2 linked regions of the Homo sapiens genome follow. The protein of the gene in region 1 interacts with the protein of each later gene in a biochemical or structural test. Each region holds a gene or a part of one and is shown on either strand. Other genes may lie near its edges.

The links.
Region 2: the proteins of POU2AF1 (region 1) and SIAH1 form a complex in vitro, tested with the Homo sapiens proteins (2 studies listed by BioGRID).

Annotation. Positions count from the first base shown.
Region 1 is NC_000011.10:111,355,202-111,359,013, forward strand, and holds part of POU2AF1 (POU domain class 2-associating factor 1), read right to left. Parts: intron 3,718-3,812; coding exon 3,587-3,717; intron 2,637-3,586; coding exon 2,594-2,636; intron 2,510-2,593; coding exon 2,244-2,509; intron 1,233-2,243; coding exon of another isoform or gene 1,215-1,232; exon of another isoform or gene 1-1,214. UniProt on the Homo sapiens protein: Transcriptional coactivator that specifically associates with either POU2F1/OCT1 or POU2F2/OCT2. It boosts the POU2F1/OCT1 mediated promoter activity and to a lesser extent, that of POU2F2/OCT2. It recognizes the POU domains of POU2F1/OCT1 and POU2F2/OCT2.
Region 2 is NC_000016.10:48,378,776-48,382,587, forward strand, and holds part of SIAH1 (E3 ubiquitin-protein ligase SIAH1), read right to left. Parts: intron 1-3,812. UniProt on the Homo sapiens protein: E3 ubiquitin-protein ligase that mediates ubiquitination and subsequent proteasomal degradation of target proteins.

The sequences.
Region 1 (3,812 bases):
TGCTGCTGCCTGGTGCCTTCCACATCCTCATCGTCCTCTGTCTCTGAGCTGATCTCCATGGCCATCCCACTTATGGGCACCCCCCATGACCCTCCAAGTGTTAGAGTCCTTCTCCTGAATGCTCTGCGAGTCATACCTCTCACCTGCACGGCGACTGCCCTCACAAACCTCAGATCAGGCCTGCAACAGGGGCGGGACCTGGATTCTTACTTTTCTTTCACACTTGAGGAAAGCAGATAGAAGAGGATGCTCTCTGCATGGATTCATGAGAGGGAGGCCAAAATCTCCCCCTACCATCCCTGTCTCCCCTGTCATATATCCCTCCTACTGTCACTGTGTCTTGACAGCAAACTGTTAGAATCATTTAGGGCAGGGCTTTTCTCAACCTCCTGGGGATCTTGTTAGAACGCAGCTTCTGGCACAGGAAGTCTAGAGTGGGGCCTGGGATTTTGCATGTCTAATCAGATCTCAGGGGGACTCCAATGTGGCCAGTCCAGGGACAAGAGTTTGAGTAGCAAGGCTTTAGGGTGTTTTTGCACAGAATGATAGAGCTGGAAATGGTCTCAGAGGCCTTCCAGCCTCCTGAAATCCGGGCTGAGGTGTACACCCCACCACAGCATAATCACTTCCTCTCCTTTGACTTAAGCCAGTGGTCCCCATCCCAGTGTCCTGAAACCAGACAGAATCCGGGAAAGCCTCATGATTCCCAGCTTTTCAAAAATCCAGATGGAAATTCTACATTTCCCAGTCATAAACCTGTAACTATAGGTTTCTTTGCTCGGGAATACAATTACTTCCACTCAGCACACAGCAGGTCTTATCTCTGCTGATCAGGAGTGTGGACTTACAGCTCTAGCCAGCTTTGATGACTTAATTTACAAAATGGCAAAACAAATAAATCAATTCTTAATGAATACTGTTTGTTTGATATACAGAACCTTTCAAAGCAGAAGGTGGGAATGATGAAAGGGGATAAATAATGAAAGGAATCCTTGGTAATGAAATGGGTGGGAGCCGTGAGTCCTCCACCCACCACCCTCACCCCAGGCCTCTGACATGGAAATGAGTTGCCTGGGAGAGGTGTTGGATTAACTCCTTCTTATCTATCATCATCCAGGCTCCAAAATTGGTTTGCTGGGTAGGCAGGTGGACCTGGGAGGGAAGGGCTTCTGCAGGCCTTTCATAGAAGGTGCTTGGAGGCAGGGGCAGGTGCATCAGGATGACACTGGACCCTGGAGGGAAATGGAAGAGACAAGGTGGACCAAAGCAAGCACCACCATCGAAGGTGGGCTCTGGGACTGCTCAAGGCCCAGCTCTACTTCCCACGGTTTCCCTGGACTGGAGCTGGATACAGCTGTAACCACAGGTCTTTTTGCCCTTGAATACTTGCAAAATTCCCAGTCCTTTAGTCGAACAGGAATCATTAACATAAATCTATTTCCCTTCCTTCCTTCATTCCCGGGGGAAGAGGCTCTTCCTTTCCCATCAAGCCCTTGGTTAATGTTAGCAGATTTTGATATGATGATAACTAACATATATTAGTGGTTTCTGTATGCCAGACACTGTGCTAAGCCCTCCACACTCATTATTTCATTTGATCCTGACAACGACCCTTTTCTTGGTATTCCCATTTTACAGATGAGGACACTGAGGCTCAGAGAGTTTTAAGTCACTAAACCCAGAGTCACATAGCTAGTAAGTGAAGGGACAGGGATTTGAACAAGGCAATCTGACAGTAGAGACAGAACTTTAAAAAATTACCCCACACGTGGGTCTGACACCATCAAAAATATCACCTGTTGTTCAGCCTAGAAATCTTCTGTTAAACCCCATTATTAAGTGAACAATCACTCCCTAAGTTATCTGAATAGAAATGAAAGGCTAGTTCCAACACAAGACCCCATGTAGATCTCGCCTGGTGCCACATTCACTAAAAACTTCAACTCAGAACCAAGACTCACTGCTTGCAGGGAAGCTGGGGAGATTTAGAACAGGGAATCAGAGAAGACCTCCCCAGTCCTGAGGAGCAGAAAGTATGACGAGAGAGGCTGCGAGACATCTTTGTGGAAGTTATCTCAGGAAATGAGAATCAGAGCAGGCCTCCATGGAGACCAAGGCGAGCTCTGATGACCTGATTATCTTGAGAATCAATAGCAAGGAAGATCAGGATCGAGAAGTCAGCTCTGGTTATAAAAGGGTGCACTCAGCATGGGCGGGTGCAGTCCTGCCTTTGTGTGACATACCGTGACATTGGTGATGAGTGGCGGAGAGGCATAGGTCAACACTGAGGAGGGCCCCACCACCGTGTAGCTGGGGCACACGGGCTGCACATACATGTCAGCTGAGTAGGGGCAGCTGACAGCTTCATGGGGCACATACTCGGTGTAAGGTGTCCATGGGGCCAGGGGCTGCAGGGTGGCCGGGGTGGGCTGGGAGAGCCAGCCGGCACACAGGGCAGCCTCCTCTGTCACTGCAGACACAGAACCTTCCATGTCCAGGCAGGAAGGACCTGTGGGAAGAAGGAAATTACAGAACTTCAGATGCCACCCAGATGAGAGGCCTGGGGGCCACCAGGGCTACGGGGCACTCTTACCCACTGTGGTGTAGGTCGCCAGGGGCTGATGGGGCAGCACCACCTAGAGGGGAGAGGAGAAGACCAGGGTCAATGTTTAGCCCTCGTCAACCGGCCCTGTGCAGAGAACTTGCCCAGAGGGCCTCAGGGCAGGAGAATAGAAGATAGGAATCTCTCTGGTTAGAACAAAACATCCCACCCCGTATCCCAACCATCACCACCTACACTTGAGAGATTTGCGTTTCTATTTAGCAGGAAGTCTGTGCGCTCAGGGAGCTGGTGTCTTCTTCTTCTCAGGGGGGGCCCCCAACTCACACCAGGGTATGCAAGTCATTCGCTCACTCAGGCCTTGACAGTAGCTGTGTTCGGTGGGCCAGCTGAGCCGGCCCTGATCCCTCATCCCAGTTGCTCCACCCTAGCTCTATCCCTGGCAGCCTCCACCAAGGGACCTGCGCTCCTTCCTGCCTGATCCTTTTGGTCACCTCCCAAGCCATCTGCCTGCGCGCACACACATTCTCACACAAACACACACACTCTCTCACACACGTACTCTCTCACACACTCTCACACTCTCACACTCACACTCTCACACACTCACACACTCTCTCACACACACTCCCTCACACACATACTCTCTCACACACACGCTCACACTCTCACACTCACTCTCACACACACACACTCTCTCACACACATACATTCTCACACACTGACACATACACATTCTCTCTCACACTATCACACACTCACACACGCCATCACACACAAACACATACACACTCACATGCATACACTCACACACTCACACTCCCTCACACACACATACACTCTCACACACTGACGCAGATACACATTCTCTCTCACACTATCACACTCTCACACACTCTATCACACACAAACACATACACACACGCATACACATACTCACACACACATACACTCTCACACTATCCCTGACACACACATTCTCTTTCACACACACACACTCACACTCTCACACACACAAACTCTCACCGCCGTAGGTGCAGGTGCTGCCCCACTGCTGGCGTGGCCTCGCTTCCTCCTCAGCAGTTCCTTCACTGGCTCCTTCACACGGACGCCCTGGTATGGCCGGGCCGGGGCTGGGGCTTGCTCCGGAGCTGTGGCTGTGAAAAGCAATGTCCCTGGAGCCCATGGTCCTTCTCAGACGAGCCCCCACCCCAAAGTGCTCATTTCCTCATGGATCTGCCTGCTCCCCTAA
Region 2 (3,812 bases), on another chromosome or scaffold:
CACTCCTCAGGTCCTAGAGCAGTCCAAATTCATCCCTACTTCATGGGGCCTTTATCTGGCTGCATCTTCCATCTAAGATGTACTCCTTCCCCCTTCAAAGGGCGAGCTCCTTATCCTTGGACACCAGGTCTCCCTTCCACCCCACTGGTCTCTTCAGCACTTTGACTCCTTTACAGTACACTTCACAATTTGTAATTCTGTTTCTTTCTTTCCTCACTAGAAGGTAAGTGGTAATATTTAGAGAAGTAACTTACTCAACAACTAATCTTTTTACAACACTTGCTGTGTTAGGCAATGTGCTTTTAGATGCAAAGTAGGCAGTGTCTCTGCTCTCATGGAACTTAAAGTCACAAACACAACTAATAAGTGATAGAGCCAAGAGACACATCCAGATCTGACTCTTAAGGGCTTGTCCTCTTAGCCACTTAATTATACTGACACTCTAGCATTAGGACATGGGGGCTGGGGGGGCGAGGGGAAGGCAGGGAACAGCAATATACTTAATAACTGTTCATGTACTAATAGAACTAAGGCTTAGAGAGGTTCAGTAATCTACCCAAAGTAGCACAAATAGACATTTCAGAGGCTAAATACAATCATGACCAAAGGCACAGAGATGCTAAAGCAGTGTTCAAGGAACAAAAGAACCCAGTTGGCCTAGGTAGGGCAAAGGGGAAACACAGGCAATAAGGCTAGAGAAGTTTGTAAGAAACACTATGCCTTGGTAAAAACAAAACACAACGAAAAGGCTAGAAGAGTTTAATAAGGACAGTGTGGAGTCAGTCGCTCAATAACTTTTTACTGAGCACCACCTATGTTCCAGAAAGAGTCCTAAACTCTTGAGACACAAGGATGACCAAGTCGTCATAGAGATTACAGTCTATCTGGGGAGGCATACAACTAAAGAAAAATTATAATTCAGGAGGATATGTTACAGTGGGACCGAGCAGAGTGCTATGGGAACACAGAGATGACATCCAATTCAATGTGCAGAGTTCACAAAGAGCTTCTCAGCTAGTGATGTCCAGGCTGAGATAAGAGAGCTTAATAGGATGAGAGGGGCTTGCAAGTAAAGTCCAAAATGGCAGGGGAGTAACAAGAGAGGCCAGCTCAGGAGAGGCTATGTACTTACGAACCATATCAAGAACTTAGAACTTTACACTGAAAGCCTTTTAAGTCAGGTTCACCTATTAGAAAGCTCACTTAAACTGCAGTAGGAAAACTGACTGTAAGGCTGGAGACCAAAAGGAGATCTCTTAAAGGTAGAAGGAAATGAATGTAAATGTGAAGAAGAGAGGCAATGCCAGCTTTGAGATAGAGAACAGAAAAAATATCTGCAAAAGACGTATCTAAAAAAGAACTGTTATCCAAAATATGCAAACCTGGCCGAACACGGTGGCTCACGCCTGTAATCCCAGCACTTTGGGAGGCTGAGGCAGGCAGATCACTTGAGGCCAGGAGTTCACCAGGCTGGCCAACATGGCGAAACCCCGTCTCTACTAAATATACAAAAATTAGCCGAGCACGGTGGGCTCGTTCCTCTAATCTCAGCTACTCAGGAGCTACTCAGCAGGCTGAGCACGAGAACAACTGCTTGAGCCTGGGAGGCGGAGGTTGCAGTTAGCTGAGTTGGCGCCACCGCACTCCAGTCTGGACAAGAGTAAGACTCTGTCTCCAAAAAAACAAACAAAAAAAAAACAAAAACTCACCAATAACAAAACAACCCAACCTAAAAAAAAGAGTCAAAAAGACCTTAACTAACTCCCCACCAAAGAGATATACAGATAACAACTAGCATATGAAATGATGCTCCACATCACATGTCATCACGGAAATGCAAATTTAAAACAGTAAGATACCACTACAGGCCAGGCGCAGTGGCCCACGCCTGTAATCCCACCACTTTGGGAGGCCGAGGTGGGCGAATCACTTGAGGTCAGGAGTTCGAGACTGACCTGGCCAGCATGGCAAAACCCCGTCTCTACTAAAAGTAAAAAGAAAAATTAGCCGGGCGTGGTGGTGTATGCCTCTAATCCCAGCTACTCAGGAGGCTGAGGCAGGAGAAATCACTTGAACCTGGGATGTGGAGGTTGCAATGAGCCGAGATCACGCCATTGCACTCCAGCCTGGGCGACAGAGTGAGACTCCGTCTCAAAAAAAAAAAAAAAAAGAACGGCTAAAATCCAGAACAGTGGTAGCTCCAAATCCGGCCGAGGATACAGAGCAACAGGAACGCTCATTCATTGCTTGTAGGAATGCAAAATGGTACAGCCAATCTGGAAGACAGTTTGGCAATTTCTTACAAAACTAAAGATACTCTTCACTTTGGGAGGCTAAGACAGGCAGATCACCTGAGGTCAGGAGATCAAGACCAGCCTGGCCGACATGTTGAAACCCTGCCTCTACTAAAAATCCAAAAATTAGCTGGGCGTCATGGCAGGCGCCTGTAATCCCAGCTACTCAGGAGACTGAGGCACGAGAATCACTTGAACCCAGGAGGTGGAAGTTGCAGTGAGCTGAGATTGTGCCACTGTACTCCACCCCAGGGCACAGAGTGAGACTGTCTCAAAAAAACAGCAGCAAAACAACTAAACTCTTACTATCTGATCCAGCAATCACATTCCTTGGCATTTACCCAAAGGAGTTACAAACTCATGGCCACACAAAAACCTGCAAATGGACGTTTACAGCAGCTTTATTCAGAATTGCCAAGACTTCGAAGCCAACCAAGACATCCTTCAGTAGGTGAATGGATAAACCAACTGTGGTACATCTAGACAACAGATTATTATGCAGCCCTAAAGAAATGAATTACCAAGCCATAAAGACGTGGAGGAAACCTAAATGCATATTACTAAGTGAAAGAAGCCAATGTGAAAAGGCTACATATTTTAAAAGCCCAGTTACACATATGACATTCTGGAAAAGGCAAAACTATGGTGACAATAAAAGAAAGAAGATAAGTGGTTGGGGGTGTGGGGACAAATAGGTGGAAGTCAGAGGATTTCTAGGGTGGTGAAAGCATTCATGTATGTCATTATGTATTTGTCTAAACCCATAAAATGTACGCCACTATAATCTTTGGGTAATAATGGTGTGTCAATGTAGGTTCCTCAATTGTAACAAACGTACCACTTTGGCGGGGAATGTTGATAATGGAGGAGGTTACACGTGTAGGGGCAGGGGCTACACGCGAAATCTCTTGTCTCTTCTACTCAAGTTGCTATGAACCTAATGCTGCTCTAAAAAATAAAGTCAATTAAAAAAATCTGCATAAGGGGATATATGGGTCTACATCTCAGCAGGCAAAAAGATTGGAGGCCAGGCACAGCAGCTCACACCTGTAATCTCAGCACTTTGGGAGTCCGAGGTGGGCGGATTACTTGAGCCCAGGAGTTTGTGACCAGCCTAGGCAAGATGGCGAGACCTGACCTGGTCTCTACAAAATAACTTTTTAAAAAATTAGCCCAGTGTGATGGCACATGCTCCTAGTCCCAGCCACTTATGAGGCTAAGGTGGGGGGAACCTTTGAGCCCAGTTGGAGGCCACAATAAGCTATGACATCACCACTGCACTCCAGCCTGGGCAACATAGCAAGACTATCTCAAAAAAAAATAAAAATAAAAATAAAGATCTGAATGTCATTAGAATACGCACAGTAGTAGGTGAGTAAACAAATACCTACTGAGCACTAGGTACTGAGGATATATATTAAAAACACAATTCTTGCCCTTATGCAGCAGATATTCTAGTAACTATAGCCATGGGAACTAAATCATTTAAAGTGCATTAGACATCCTGCTATTTTGAAG